Regions from separate parts of the Homo sapiens genome. Here region 2 is linked to region 1. A link means that fine-mapping ties the variant in region 1 to the expression of a gene that starts in the linked region. Tissue or cell type: whole blood. Region 1 holds a variant in brackets; the other region holds the start of a gene. All regions are shown on one strand. Distances are from middle to middle.

Region 1 (8,106 bases):
TCCCACCTCAGCCTCCTGAGAGCTGGGACCACAGATGCATGCCATCATGCCCGGTTAATTTTTTTGTAGTTTTGGTAGAGATGAGGTTTTGCCATGTTGCCCAGGCTGGTCTGGAACTCCTAAGCTCAAACAATCTGCCCACCTCTGCCTCCCAAAGTGCTGGGATTATAGGCATGAGCCACCGTGCCCAGTCCTATTCACTGTCTTTATTATCCAGTTCCTTGGCCACAAAATATATATGATACAGAGATTGTACTTGGAAAATGCATGAACTGAGATAAAAGACAACACCGTTTGGACCAAACTGCAAAATGAAAACTTACAGATACAATGTAGACTGCTCTGATATAAAGACTTATGTCTGCCAAAATTCCTATGTTAAGGCCCCATCCTCAATGTGATAGTATTTGGAAGTGTGGTCTTTGGAAGGCAATTAGGTCAGGATGGTGCATAGAACTTCAGGAATGCAATTAGCAGAAACGTGAAAAAGCCTCTGCTTTTTGCATGACAATCTCTCTGCCACATGAGAACACAGAGTCAGCCATGGCACACCAGAAAAAAGTCCACACCAAGAACCAAAGTGGCTGGCTCTGACATGTTGAACTTTGCACCACCCAGATCTGTGAAAAGTCCATTTCTGCTGTTTAAACCACCCTATCTATGGTATCTGATATAGCTAGTCATGCTGACTAAGGTAAAGCCAATATGCTATCTCATTATAAACATGAAACAATGTTGATACACGTTATTAAACAAATTTGTGAGTCTGTACTATAAAACATGCAATATTCTAAGCTAGCTAACAGCATTAACTTGTTTAAAAAGTCTTTAGGTAAATTATCACTATTTAACAAACAAGCACACTAAATATGCCCACAGGATTTATGTATCTATACCCAATTTACAAAGAAAGTAAGACACAAGAACCTGGGTTTGCAAGATCAAACATGTTTTTTAAAAACAACTTCCCAAACAAGCAGTGCAGATAACAGGTCAACCCAAATATCAAGAGTGTAGAAATACTTCAAGAGCCATTTTGTGTAGAGCACCTGATTCTGTCGCTGTTCAGGGTGCCACTATGTAACCCACATGGACCTAGGAGGACTGAACAAAGGGGGCGAATGCGGGAATAAAAGACAAGAGACAAAAGAGTATATTTGGAAGAAGGGGTCAGGGGCACCTTGCCTGTAGTGGACAAGGGCCCTGAGCTTTACACAGCCGTCCGTATTTATTAGGCAAGAGAGATAGTGAGAAGGATGGTGGAAGAAGGGGTCAGCTGCGCAGTCCAGAGTAGGCTTGCAAGACTGCATTCCTCAAACAACAGGCTCTAGATATGGCAGTAGATAACCCTGGCACCAGGAAGTGATTGCCTCCAGCAAACCTTCTGTCAGCAGGAGCAGTCATGAGTTTGCCCACATCCTGCATTCATGATAAACAGTTTGCTGTTTGATCATATAGCCTCCAGTGGAATGCTGAGTTGGTCACGTCCCACAGGCTTTGGCTCCCTGCAATGCTGTGTTGCCAAAAGCATTATTCAGCCATCCGTCATGAATAACGAACGGTATCTGAGTCATCATCCCCTGCACATATTGATTTACGCAGTGTTATCAGACAGTGGTCAAGTGAATGAGTAGGGGTCACCCCTTACAGAGTGAGAGTAGCATGGGAGGTGAGGGAGTTCTGCAATAATGGGAGTATAAAATTAATATGCTAGTCAGTAACTGGGTAGTCCATCTGGACAAAGTAATATGTTAGGAAAGGCCCAGGAGGACAAAGGGCAAGAGGGGAGATCAAGGAGTAATGAGCATGGAGCAGCAGGGTTTGTGCTTGAAGAGCTGTGGGAATAGAATTGCACAAGAAACAGCTAAAATCCTGGCTTTGGAAGAAAAGAGAAACTAATGTAGAGGTAGTATTGTACTGACTAATACTTAAACATGAGAATTATACTATGGGTGCAGGACAACAAGGGAAGACAATTAAAAAGGAGGCGGTGTGATGATATGGGAAGAAAACAGATTTATGTCTCTATAATATTTGCTATGAAATTTATCAAACTGAATGTCCCATAAGTTCTATTTCCAGGTATATGCTCAACAACCCTACATATCAAGAGATATGTGAAAGACTGTTCTTACAATTCAATCCTTAAGAAAAAACCTGAAAATGGCCACGAAGAGGAGATGGATGAATTCATTTTGTACACACACAAAGACACCACAAAACTTTACTGATAGTACAAGAACGTTAAGGAGACGGGGTGCAGAATGAGGACCCGTAGCACAACAGGCAAAGATTTGAGAAAACAAAGAAAGCAGGAGACTCTTGTCAAGGTTTAAATATATGTTAATGGAGACACAGTATATACGATGAAAGTATCCTGGGATATCAAAAACACAACATGGAAGCAGATCTGTAAAAAGTCATTTCTGTATGTAATTGAAGTTAAGCTGTTATTAGTTTAAAATAGGATGTTATAAATCTAAAGTGTTTTCTGTAATTGCAACGGTAACCACAGAGAATGTATAGAAGACACACACAATGGAAATAAAACTATTTCAGGAAAAAAAAATCAACTATATAAAAACGAAGGCAGTAAGACAAACAGAACAAAAAAATCTAAAAGAGATATAGAAAGCACTTAACACAATGGCAATATAAGTCCTTTTCTATCAGTAATTACATTAAATGTAAGTGTTTATACTCCACAGTCAAAAGACAGAGACTGGCTGAATAAATTTTTAAAACTGGCTTCAGCTGCACACTATCCAGAAAATACTCATTTTAATTCAAAGGACACACATAGGCTGAACTGAAGGGATGAAAAAAGATATGCCCTCAAAATGTTAACCGAAAGACATCAGAGGTGGCTAAACTGATGTCAGCCAAAATAGACTTTATGTCAAAACTGGTACAAGAGACAAAGAAGGGCATTATATAATGATTAAAAGGTTAATTCACTAGGAGGATATAACAATATGTGCCTATATAGAGATCCTCAATATGTGAAGCAAAATTAACGTAACTAAAGGGAGAAGTAGTTCCACAGTAATAATAAGAGACTTCAATGGCCTATTTTTACTTATAAATAGGACAATCAGACAGAAGAAAAACAAGGAACTAGAGAACCTAAACTATATATCAAGTTGAACCTAACCTATATATGCATAACACATCACCCAAAAACAGTGCAATACAAATTTTTCAGAACTGCACATGAAACATTTTTCAAAAGAAATATCGGAAAAGAAAAAAAATTTTAAACTTTTTAAAGACTAAAATCGTAAAGCATAACTTATCCCATCATAATAAAATAAAACTAGAGATCAACAGCAGAAGAAAATTAGATTATCAA[CA/C]AATATGTGGAAACAACATACTCTTAGGCCGGTGTGGTGGCTCACGCCTGTAATCCCAGCAATTTGGGTGGCTGAGGCAGGTGGATCACCTGAGGTCAGGAGTTCGAGACCAGCCTGGCCAACATAGTGAAACCCTCAGCCAAGCATGGTGGCAGATGCCTGTAATCCCAGCTACTCGGGAGGCTGAGGCAGGAGAATCGCTTGAACCCAGGAAGTGGAGGTTGCAGTGAGCCGAGATTGCACCACTGCACTCCAGCCTGGACAACAAGAGCGTAACTCCGTCTCAAAAAACAAAAACAAACAAACAAGGACCATACTCTTAAACAGCCAATATGTCAAATTAGAAATCACAAGGGAAATTTTAAAAATCTCAAAACAAAGGAAAATGAAAATAGAACATACCAAAACTTGTGAATGCAGGAAAAACAGTGCTAAGATAGAAAATCTGCAGATATAAATGCTAACATTAAAACAGAAGATATCCAATGGAACAGAATAGGAAACCCAGAAATACAGCCACACACCTACAACCAACTGATCCTTGATAGTCAAAAAAAAATTGGGAAAAGACATTCTATTCAATAAAGGGTGCTAGAAAAACTGGCTAGCCATATATAGAAGAATGAAACTGGACTCCTATCTCTTGTCATATACAAAAATTAATTCAAGATGAATAACGACTTACATTAAGTCTTCAAGCTACAAAAATTCTAGAAGAAAATCTAGGAAAAACTTTTCTGGACAAAATACAAGTTGTTGTTTTTTTTTCTTTTTTTTTTTTAGAGACAGGGTCTTGCTCTGTCGCCCAGGCTGAAGTACAGCAGTGTGATCTCAGCTCAATGCAACCTCTGCCTACTGGCTTCAAGCAATTCTCTTGTCTCAGCCTCCCAAGTAGCTGAGATTACATGCATGTGCCACCACACCCGGCTAATTTTTTTGTATTTTTAGTAGAAACAGGGATTCACCATGTTGGTCAGGCTGGTCTCGAACTCCTGACCTCAGACCTCAAAATGATCCGCCTGCCTCAGCCTCCCAAAGTGCTGGGATTACAGGCATGAGCCATTGCTCCTGGCCCAATACCAGTTTTTTAAGAGAATTTATTCTTCATTGCTTGAGCATCACGAAAAAAATATATAGGTTTTATAAATAGTAGAGAAGTCCCTGAAGTGTAAGAAATGGGCTAAGTTTAAAATAAAGTTAGATTTTTAAATAATGATTCAGTATAACATGATGGACATGAATGTAGATAGGAGAATAGTTATTATAATACAGCATTTGTTCCAAGAAAGAAAAAAACAGTGCAATTTGAACAAAACCCAGCAAGCTATATTTAGGAAACTGAAACTTACTACAGAAAAGCAATGTATGTTATATAACAAAGAACGATCAATCTATTAAATGGTATTTCCACAATTAAGATAGTAACTTAAAAAATTATGCTCAAGATATTAAAAATTTCCAACTTAAAAACTGTAATCAATTTAACCGACAAATATATACTTTCATAGTAGGAATTAAGTCAGGTGAAACAGAAGTAAAAGGAATAACTGATACTATCAATACAACATTATGGAGTTTCTGTAAGTTTTAGGGAAACTGCTGCTGAGCTATACCATCTGTACTAAAGAAGGAAATCTTGTAAAATACATAAAACAATATGCATTCCCCAACACAACACTACCACAATAGAAACATAAAACAAAGAAAACTGAGTATCCTCAAAAATATGGAACTGATTAAATAAATAAAAACAAAGTTCATTTATAATACATGAAAATGCATCAGATGAAAGCAATGGTTGCTTAAAACGAATTTTGTGGACTTAAAAAAGATAAGCCTCATTCAACTTCATTAGCTTCCTCAAGATCAAAGTCGTACTCACTATAAACAAAAATACTGGGGAAGAAAAGTGTGGCATGAGCAGTGGTTCAGGCAACAGCCCTGCAGAGATGAAGCTGTGAACCTGGACAATGTTCTTCCCGGGAGAAATTTTTTTTTTTGAGACAAAGTCTCGCTCTTGTTCCCCAGGCTAGAGTGCATGGCGCAATCTCAGCTCACTACAACCTCCGCCTCCCAGATTTGAGAGATTCTCCTGCCTCAGCCCCCCGAGTAGCTGGGATTACAGGTGCCTGCCACCACGCCCGGCTAACTTTTGTATTTTTAGTAGAGACGGGGTTTCACCAAGTTGGCCAGGCTGGTCTAGAACTCCTAACCTCAGGTGATCCACCCGCCTCAGCCTCCCAAAGTGCTGGGATTACAGGCGTTGAGCCACCGTGCCCGGCATGGGAGAAATTCCTACACCATTCACTGCTAGCTCAAAAAAGAGGACCATTAGTATATGAGATCAACATTGCCACAGTACCCTTGAAAGATACTTTTGTGACATTTCTCAGAAACCAGGCTCTTGTGATGGTCTCTATCTGAATATCATGACAAATGCTGATCATTCTACTCTGGCTTTAATAGTTACCTCTGTATGTAGCAAGATGATGTTAAAACTCATTACTCAAAGTGCTCTCCTTCAAAAATTTTCTCTTACCCAGTAAACTCACTCCATACAATAGTCCACAAGATATTCATAACCCCAAGATGGGTTATCACAGCAGGAAAAAAGCATAAAATGTCCGACCCTAGAAATGCATTTATCCAAAGCAAGTCTCAGAGGCAAAAAATCACACAAACATAAAAGAGAATGCAAGATCAGAAAGAGCCAAGGCATAAACAAGACAGAGAAAAACACAGGAATTGGATTGTGAGGGATCTTGAAATGAGACAGTGCTCTGTCCACAGATCCCAAACTAAGAGTGTGAAGACAGAGATACGCTCCCTGTGTAGGACTAAGAATAAAGAGAGGACCTTTGTGTCAACTGTCTTTACAATTCTTATATGTAACAATCTCAGGAGACCCAACTCATTCCCGTGTCACAAACCCAAGAAGAGTGTCCAAAGAAGAACTAAGAAAATGGCTGAGGGACCTGAACAGGCAGAGAGGGCTGAAGATAGTCCAGTTCTAGGACCCCAGCTTCAAAGGAAGGGCAACCAATGTTTCCTCATCTCCTGACCAGCACTTTCAAGTATAGGAAATGGGGTGGAACCAGAAAAGTTCCAGGCACCAGGACTATGGAGCCCTCAGCTCCAATCTATATGGATCAGAGAACTGAGGATCAGATGGAATCAAGAACAGGAGGAGAGACCACACGGGAAAGAGACTTCTTTGAAAAGGCCCTTCCCATGCCACAGAGTCAAAGCATCAGAGTTCACACAATACAGATGACACTGTGGTCCATCATAACAGTCTTGTACTTTGCTCTGTTTGAGCTGCAGCAACCCCTGGAGAGTGAAAGGTAAAGTTATACGTGTCTGGAAAGCAAAGTGATAAGCAGGAAAGAAGAAAACTTCTGGAGCTCACAGAAAATCAAATTTGTTTCCCCACAGAACTCTCCCACTTGCAGAGTCTTACGCACACAATTTCATGGTACCGCTTCCATTGTGCCCATCTGAGCTCTTACCGGTGATCACGCCTTTCATGCATTCCCCACAGTTTGGGTTCCTCGCTATTTTCACTTGGCTCACCACAGTCCAGGGCTCTTTCCCTTGCTCCAACATGGAGATAATATTCAGGTCAGGAAGACAGAGTCCTGCTTATAAAAAAAGAAAGAAGATGTCCCACGGTTTTTCCAGAACCCAGCCTAATGTCTAGGTAGAAGAGAAAACACTGCAGTTGAATCTACAAAATATTTCACAAACTCATCCATTGATTGCCTCCTTCTGAATGCTTAGTGAACACTGTAAGATGAAGATATCTAGCTCTCTCCCAAGAAATACTGAATCAAAAACACAGGGATAGGCCAAGCATACTGGCTCAAGCCTGTAATCTCAGCACTTTGGGAGGCCAAGACGGGAAGATGACTTGAGCACAGGAGTTCAAGATCAGCCTAGGCAACAGAGTGAAACCCTGTCTCTACCTGGGCATGGTGTTGCACACCCACAGTCCCAGCTACTTGGAAGGCTAAGGTGGGAGGATGGCTTTATCCCAAGAAGCTAAGGTTGCAGTGTGCCAAGATCACAAGATCACACCACTGCACTCCAGCCTGGGTGACAGACTGAGACTGTGTCAAAAAAAAAAAAAAAAAGCACAAGGATAGAAAACAGGAAGAACAGGGAATTGGATATATTAACTCCGCCATAAGGTTTTACACGTACCTCAGCTCTGGAGTCACCACTAATGTACAAAGAAGGAAGCAGAATATCCATAGAAATGGGACAGTTAAAGGCCAGATGCAGCATTATGAAGCTTTTTATTTGTGAATCAACAAGGCTTCAGTCTCTGTCAAATAATGTAGGGCCTCACAAGAAACACAATAAGGAAAGTACAAAAATGCACAAGGGAAGATCCTAACTTCTGGAGGAAAACTATCCTCACCCAGGAAGCCGAGGTTCCTGTAGTTCTCCAACATCACGTCCCTGTACAAAGCTTTCTGAACAGGGTCCAGGCATTTCCACTCCTCCTGAGAGAATTCTACAGCCACATCCCTGAATGTCAAAGATCCCTGAAATGAAAAACACATTTCAATATGAGCAGTGGGTGAGCTCTTATCTTTACATAAAATGAGAAGAGGAGAGAACTGTCACATCAATTTGATTGAAGTGTGTTTTGACATATCCATTAAAAGTATCTGTGAGATAATTACGTCTCCCTGATTTTGGGTTTTATAAAATTCAATAGGAGATTAGGATATTATCTAAATCGGTG
Region 2 (8,106 bases), 86 kb before region 1:
CACGCCTGTAATCCTAGCACTTTGGGAAGCTGAGGAAGGTGTGGGGGAAAGAGAGATCAGACTGTTACTGTGTCTATATAGAAAGAGGAAGACATAAGAAACTCCATTTTAATCTGTACAAAGAAAAGTTCCTCTGTCTTGAGATACTGTTAATCTGTAACCCTAGCCCCAACCCTGTGCTCAGAAACGTGTGCTGTGTTGGCTCAAGGTTTAATGGATTTAGGGCTGTGCAGGACGTGCTTTGTTAAAATGTGTTTGCAGGCAGTATGCTTGGTAAAAGTCATCACCATTCTCCAGTCTCAAGTACCCAGGGACACAATGCACTGCGGAAGGCCGCAGGGACCTCTGCCCAAGAAAGCCTGGGTATTGTCCAAGGTTTCCTCCCACTGATACAGCCTGAGATATGGTCTCGTGGGAAGGGAAAAACCTGACCATCTCCCAGCCCAACACTCGTAAAGGGTCTGTGCTGAGGAGGATTAGTGAAAGAGGAAGACCTCTTTACAGTTAAAATAAGAGAAAGCCATCTGTCTCCTGCTCCTCCCTGGGAATGGAATGTCCCGGTATAAAACCCAATCATACATTCTATTTACTAAGATAGGAGAAAACCACCTTATAACTAAAGGTGAGACATACTGGCGGCAATACTACTCTTTACTACACTAAGATGTCTGTGTAAAGTCAAACATAAATCTGGCCTACGTACACATCAAGGCACAGGACCTTTCCTTAAACTTATTTATAACACAGAGTCCTTTACTCACATGTTTTCCTACTGACCCTCTCCCCACCATTACCCTATAGTCCTGCCACACCCCCCTCACCAAGATGGTAAAAATAGTAATCAATAAATACTAACAAAACTCAGAGACCAGTGCCGGTGTGGGTCCCCCATATGCTGAACACCAGTCCCCTGGGCCCACTTTTCTTCCTCTGTACTTTCTCTCTGTGTCTGATTTCTTTTCTCAGTCTCTCATTTCCACCTTGCAAAAAATACCCACAGGTGTGGAGGGGCAGGCCCCCTTCAGGCAGGTGGACCACTTGAGCCAGAGTTGGAGACCAGCCTGGCCATCATGGTGAAACCCCATCTCTACTAAAAATACAAAAATTAGCCAGGCAAGGTGGCACCTGCTGGTAATTCCAGCTACTCGGGAGGCCGTGGCACAAGAATCACTTGAGCCCAGAAGGCAGAGGTTGCAGTTGAGCCAAGCACGCCACTACACTCCAGCCTGGGCGACGAGAGCAAGACTCTATCTAAAAAAATTAAAAAAAAAAAAAAAAATCAATAAATGGTACTGGGGATGGGGACAGAAAGTTAAAACCCCCCTCACAACATACACAAAAACCATTTTAGAATCAACTGTCAATTTCAATGGTAGAAACATATCAATAAAGCTTTAAAGAACATTAATATAGGAGAATCTCTCAATGTTATTAGGGTATGGCCAGATATTTTAAAGAGGCCACATAAAGCACCCTATAAAGCAAACTATATCCTGCTAGGGGAACTGTAAGTGGTACAACCACTTTAGAAAACAGTTTGACATCTATTTAGACGGAGTTTATACACACTCTATGAAGCAGCAATTTTCCTCCGAGGTGCACATCTAGATATACATCTCTGCCTCCCCCATATGAGAGCACATATGAACCAAAAGACATTTACACAAATTTTCACACATGCATTATTCTTAATAATACAAGCTTTAGGTAATACAAATGTAATTAATAATAGAAAAAACTGCTATATTTTACATAATGGAATGTGATAGAAAACCTATTATACCTTTGGTCCAGCCTGCAAGAATGCTTTTTACATTTTTGAAAGACTGTAAAACAAAAAGCAAATTAGCATATGCAAGAGACCATATGTAGCCTGCAAGCCCTAAAATATTTACTGTAAATTCGCCTGATCCTTGTCATTGAGCAAAGAAAATATACTCAGATGCAACAGGAAAGACCCTCACCAATAATGAGCAAAAGAAGGCTGACACAAAAAAAGAGTGATGTACAATTCCACTGATATACAGAGTTTAAAATAGGCAAAACTGTATTAACTACAATGATAAATAATGATTAATTATATAAAGAAAAGCCTAAAATACTTTTCGGTGTGAGAATGGAAAAAGACTCACAGAACACCACTGGTGTGCTGACCATATTCTATTTCTTGACCTGGGCAATGACTGCTTATACATATATTGCCTCCATGATAATTAAATTGTACATTTAAAATATATAAATGTAGAAAAATTAACAAAGTAAAGGAAGAGATCAACCATACCAAACAGTTTACCTCCAGGAAAGGTGTTAACTCCAGACAACACAACGGGTGAATTTTACAGGTGGGTAATAAAACAAGAACGTCCACTAACACCCTATTTTCCTACTTTATACTGGAAAGTTGAGCCAATGCATTAAGATAAGAATGAATTATAAGCATTACAAAGTAAGACAGAAAATTAATGTTATTTTCAGGCGATATCATCACGAACATGGAAAAAGAGATTCAAGAAATTACATATTTAAAAAAGAAAATGCTCCCTCAGAAACTCCCAGGCAGATTTTCACATACATAGTTGGCTAGAATTGCACCATACGCCTAAGCTCATTTCCATGTCAAACCTATCACTAGCAATGGCAATTGGAACCAGCAAGATTGGCTAAGACCAACAAGGCCTTACTAAGAAACTGGGATTTGGGTCGCCTTGCCACAGGGATGAATACTTCACGAAATGGAGATTCTGTTAAGAAAGTGTGAATATAAGGCGGGCAAGCAACACTCACTATATATTAAGAAGTGAAGGCCGGGCGCGGTGGCTCACGCCTGTAATCCCAGCACTTTGGAAAGCCAAGGTGGGCGGATCACCTGAGGTCAGGAGTTCGAGACCAACCTGCCCAACGTGGTAAAACCCTGTCTCTACTAAAAATACAAAAACTAGCCGGGCGTGGTGGCGTGGGCCTGTAGTCCCAGCTACTCAGGAGGCTGAGGCAGGAGAATCGCTTGAACCCGGGAGGCGGAGATTGCAGTGAGCCGAGATCGCGCCATTGCACTCCAGTCTGGGAGACAAAAGTGAAACTCCGTCTCAAAAAATAAAAAAAATAAATAAAAAATAAAAGAAGTGAATGCAGAGGTTGGCAACATTTTCGATTTTGCCGGCCACGAGGTCTCTGTCACAACAACTCAACCGCTGCCTTTGCAGCCATAGACAATATATAATCGGAGGGTATGACTGAACTTGACCCCCCGATCTGTAAATAGCCACCCCAAGGATCAGAAGAGTAGATATATGGTTTCGAACTAATGCTGGGGGCTGTGTCGCCTTTTGCCCCAGTAACCGAGGTTCGAACCTCAACCCAGGACCCAGGGCTCCAAAGTCTCGAAAGCTTCAGCCCTCACAAGCCTTTGTACCACAGACACTGGCCCCATGCCTCTTACTCATCCGAACCACGGACCAGACACTCTACAGCGATGGACATCCTCCCAGACTCCAACATCACTGAGTTCCAAATTAAATCCTGAACCCGAAGCAGACGCCGCATCGATCCTAATCGCCACCTCCATCCTTTACAAGCAGAGTGATCCATACCTTGACAGTTAGGACACGGCCGTTGATCACTACAGACCCTTAGTCACTGTACTCACACCAAAGGCACGCGGACCACAGACAGGGGGATCACAGACTCCCACCAGGTACCTCCCAAATGCCTATACCCCGGCGCTCCCCAGTCTTCCTGCCAAAAACTATGTGGTCCAGGGTACACCACGTCCTCAGATCTCCCAAACCTTCCACTGAGACAAAACCTGAACTAGGACAAAAAACTTTCAGGGACAAAACCACACACTGACCTCTATTTTCTCCAGATACACAAGAAGGGCCTCAACGTTACACTTCCGTAAACTGCTCCTACTTCTGGAGTCCTCGCACGGGTTTATGGTCCACCTACGGCGGCCGAGGAGAACCTAAAATGTTTAAAAGAGCAAGGACAAGCGCATTTACGGCATTTCCTACTCTGTAAAATGGCCGCGCCCATAGCCGTGGCTCCTGACGGCAGCCATGTTTGAAAATTGGACGCACAGAAGGCAGTGGCAGGTTTTTGAGCCAGGAGCCAGGGAAGAAGAGAAGTCACTGAAATCGCCTCGTTTCCTGGCACTTAAAGTCTTGCGAAAGGGGGCAGATTTTCAGAGACTCAGGCTTTATCAGGCAAATATGGGGCAAGCTAAATTGCCTTTAGCGCTTTTCCATCCACTTTGTTAAATTTAAAAAAAAAGGTTTTGAAAAAGACAAGTAACAGTGCAGCCAGGTGTAGGTATCCCAGAGAATGAATTGGAAATGGAAAAGGTAACAGATCAGGTAGAAAGGGAAAAGGCAACACATCAGGTAGGCAGACACCCACGGGAAAGCGTCTGGCGAAAATTAGCTTGCAGGAAGCGGTTTTTAAGAACAGAAAAATAGCAGGTATTCGGGGGGGCGGGTGGTGAAGAAAGAAAAAAATTATAATTTTTTTTGAGACGGAGTCTTGCTCTGTCGCCAGGCTGGAGTGCAGTGGCGAGATCTGGGCTCACTGCAACCTCTGCCTCCCTGGTTCAAGCGATTCTCCTGCCTTAGCCTCCCAAGTAGCTGGGACTACAGGCACGCGCCACCACGCCCAGCTAATTTTTGTATTTTTAGTAGAGACTGGCTTTCACCATGTTGGCCAAGATGATCTCGACCTCCTGACCTCGTGATCTGCCTGTCTCGGCCTCCCAAAGTGCTGGGATTACAGGTGTGAGCCACCGCGCCTGGCCTCGAAAAAATGATTATTATTTACAAAAAAGAAGAAGAAGAAGGAGGAAGAGGAGGAGGAGAAGGAAGAGAAAAGAGGAGAAAAGAAGAGAAAAGAGGAGAGGAGAGGAGAGAAAAGAGATTTTGAGAATGAATTACGATGTGAGCCTGGCCACGACAGACTAAAGGAATTGGGCCTCCTAGAAAGGCCACTTTTAGTAAAGGTGCCAATGGGAAGAGCAGAGCCAGAATTGAGAGTATAAAAATATTGTTAAGAGTTTTTGACAAAAGTGCCAAGACAATTCAATAAGAATAGTCTTTTCAACAAGCGGCACTGGGATAATTGGATATCCACATCCAGAAAAATGAGTTAGGACCCTCAAACCATACACAAAAGTTAACTCAAAATAGATCATAGATCTAAGTTTAAGAGAAAGTATAAAACTTAGAGAAGGAAAAGGGAGATAATCCTCATGGACGTGAGTTAATTCTGAGAGGAGAGTAAAGGATGACCCACAAAACAAAATAAAATTAATAAAGTGGACTTGATTTTTTTTTAAGTTTGTGCTTCTAAACACAACATTTAAGAAAGTGAAGTGGGGCACGGTGGCTCACACCTGTAATCCCAGCACTTTGGGAGGCCGAGGCAGGCGGATCATCTGAGGTCAGGAGTTCCAGACCAGCCTGGCCAACAAAGCGAAACCAGTCTCTACTAAAAATACAAAAATTACCCGGACGCGGTGGCGCGCGCCTGTAATCCCAGCTACTCGGGAGCCTGAGGCAGGAGAATCGCTTGAATCCGGGAGGCGGAGGTTGCAGTAAGCCGAGATCGCGCCACTGCACCCCAGCCTGGGCGACAGAGCAAGACTCCTCGGTAAAGACACCACTTCGTCACCCTGAATTACTCTGATTTTTATGGGTACAATGAGAATAGTGGACCTAGGAAGAAAAAGTTTTTAAATAGAAACCTTCAGGACAGATTTGGACTTGAAAGACTGACAGGAAGTGTTTCCAGCATCCAGTTAGTCTCAAAGCAACCACTAACCTTCAACTGCACACCTGAAAGCCTCCAGCCTCATTACATTCTCAAACACAGACAAGCCCCGTCTTCCTCTAAATAAAATTGCCTTCAAATTCAATTTAAAACTTACCACAGAGGCACTCCTTTGACACTCCTCCCCCTAGACCTTTCATTCACGCCACTCCTCTTCCTAGCTCGGGCTTCTCTGTATCTGAGCCCCATATTAAATTGCAAATCTGAGCAAAAAACAGCATTCACTGAGACACACTTTCCCCAGTTTTCTATTACTGAGACTCATGAAAAGTGAACATATAGACCTCAAGCTCTGTCCGTGGGACCCTCAGTCATTAAACTCTTAAAACTAAGCCTTAACCTTTGACATCCCAAGGGTCTCTTTCTCACACCCATATTCCTCGGTGACTAAACTGAAATAAAACCCCTGAACACGGACATTCACATGCGTTTCCACTTCATGGTCGTCCCCACAAGCTCCCCATCCGGATTCACACGCAGCATCAGGCTTTCAAGGCTACAGTAGCAGCTGCCAAAGGCTGAACACGTATCAGAACCTACTTCCGATTCTGGAATTCTGGTGCTGCAACCCCATCCTTCGCCATCTCTAAGAACACCGAGAGACTGGGAGGCGGGCTTCCGGAGAGGGATATGGGACATTTCCCAAAGTCCAGGTTCTGGCTTTGAACATTTTATATGAGGTAACATAGCTGTTTTACCTCATAGAGCATATTATGTCATTTCTGATGGGAGTGACCGTAGATTATTAGTGGAGTGATAGACACGCACATCAACAGAATAGAGTCAAGAAATGGACACAAGAACAGGCAACTGATTTTTACAAATGTTCAAAATCAATTTAATGGAAAGAGGACAGTGTTTTCAATACTGTTGAATCAACTGGGCAACCATAGGCTGAACTTTAAATTAACCCTTACCCTATATACAAAGATGAATTTAAATGGATATTGCTAAATATTAAAAAGCAAAACTGGCTGGGCGTGGTGTCTCACGCCTGCAATCCCAGCACTTTGGGAGGCTGAGGTGGCCAGATCACGAGGTCAGGAGATCAAGACCATCTTGGCCAACATGGTGAAACCCCGTCTCTACTAAAAATACAAAAATTAGCTGAGCATGCCGGTGCGTGCCTGTAATCCTAGCTACTTGGGAGGCTGAGGCAGGAGAATCACCTAAACCCAGGAGGCGGAGGTTGCAGTGAGCCAAGATCATGCCATTGAACTCCAGCCTGGGTGAGAGAGTGAGACTCTGTCTCAAAAAAAAAAAAAAAAAAAAAAAAAAAAAGAAGCAAAACTACATTATTTTGTCAAAGGAAGTGGAAAAAGAATTATCAATTACAGTAAGGAAGGAATACTTAGATGTAATGCCAAAACCCCACAATCCATTAAAAAAAAAAAGGCTGGGTGCAATGGCTCACACCTGTAATCCCAGCACTTTGGGAGGCCATGGTGGACAGATCACCTGAGGTCAGGAGTTTGAGCCCAGTTTGGCCAACACGGTGAAACCCCAATCTCTACAAAAGTACAAAAATTAGTGGGACATGATGGCAGGTGCCTGTAATCCCAGCTACTCGGGAGGCTGAGGCAGAAGAATCACTTGAACCTGGGAGGCAGAGGTTGCAGTGAGCCGAGATCATGCCATTGCACTCCAGCCTGGGCAAGACAGCAAGATTCCATCTCAAAAAAAAAAGTTGGACTTCATCATAATTAAAATCTTTTTCTCTGAGAGAAAAAAAGAAAGAACCACATCTATGGAAAAATATTTGCAAGTGATATAAAACCTTTATCCAGCTGGATAAAATCTTTATCCAGCATTAATAAACAATGCTCTAAGCAGCGCACAGTGGCAAATGCCTGCAGTCCCAGCTACTCTGGAGGCTGGGACAGAAAACTTCTCAAGACCAGGAGTTTGAGACTGTAGTGTGCTATAATGGTGCCTGTGAATAGCCACTGCACTCCAGCCTGAGCAACATAGTGAGACCTTGTCTCTTAAAAAAAAAAAAAAAAAAGCCTTTAGGGAGGTGCAAATGGAAGGCCACATACAATTGGTATGTTTGTATTCATACCAATACACACACAATAGAATAGGTAAAATAAAACATTCCAGTCCTGCGTGGTGGCTCACGCCTGTAATCCCAGCACTTCAGGAGGCTGAGGCGGGTGGATCACAAGGTCAGGAGTTCGAGACCAGCCTGGCCAAGATGATGAAACCCCGTCACTACTAAAAATACAAAAATTAGCCAGGCGCAGTGGCAGGCACCTGTAATCCCAGCTACTCAGGAGGCTGAAGCAG

What was found. PIP is the estimated chance that this variant, and not a neighbour inherited with it, causes the effect.
Region 2: ZNF350 starts here. The variant in region 1 is fine-mapped to the expression of ZNF350 in whole blood (INTERVAL, PIP above 0.99).

What each region holds. Positions count from the first base shown.
Region 1 is chr19:52,069,182-52,077,287 of GRCh38, forward strand. ZNF841 (zinc finger protein 841) reads right to left here. Exons shown (of 7, transcript NM_001136499.2): 5 at 7,777-7,903; 6 at 6,863-6,991. Among named protein-coding and RNA genes, the nearest start is that of ZNF841, 23 kb to the right of the region's middle. RefSeq lists an enhancer at 949-2,148. The variant CA/C (reference allele first, on the strand shown) is at 3,353.
Region 2 is chr19:51,982,923-51,991,028 of GRCh38, forward strand. ZNF350 (zinc finger protein 350) reads right to left here and starts at 3,918. Exons shown (of 5, transcript NM_021632.4): 1 at 3,848-3,918. RefSeq lists enhancers at 3,383-4,258, 3,845-4,084.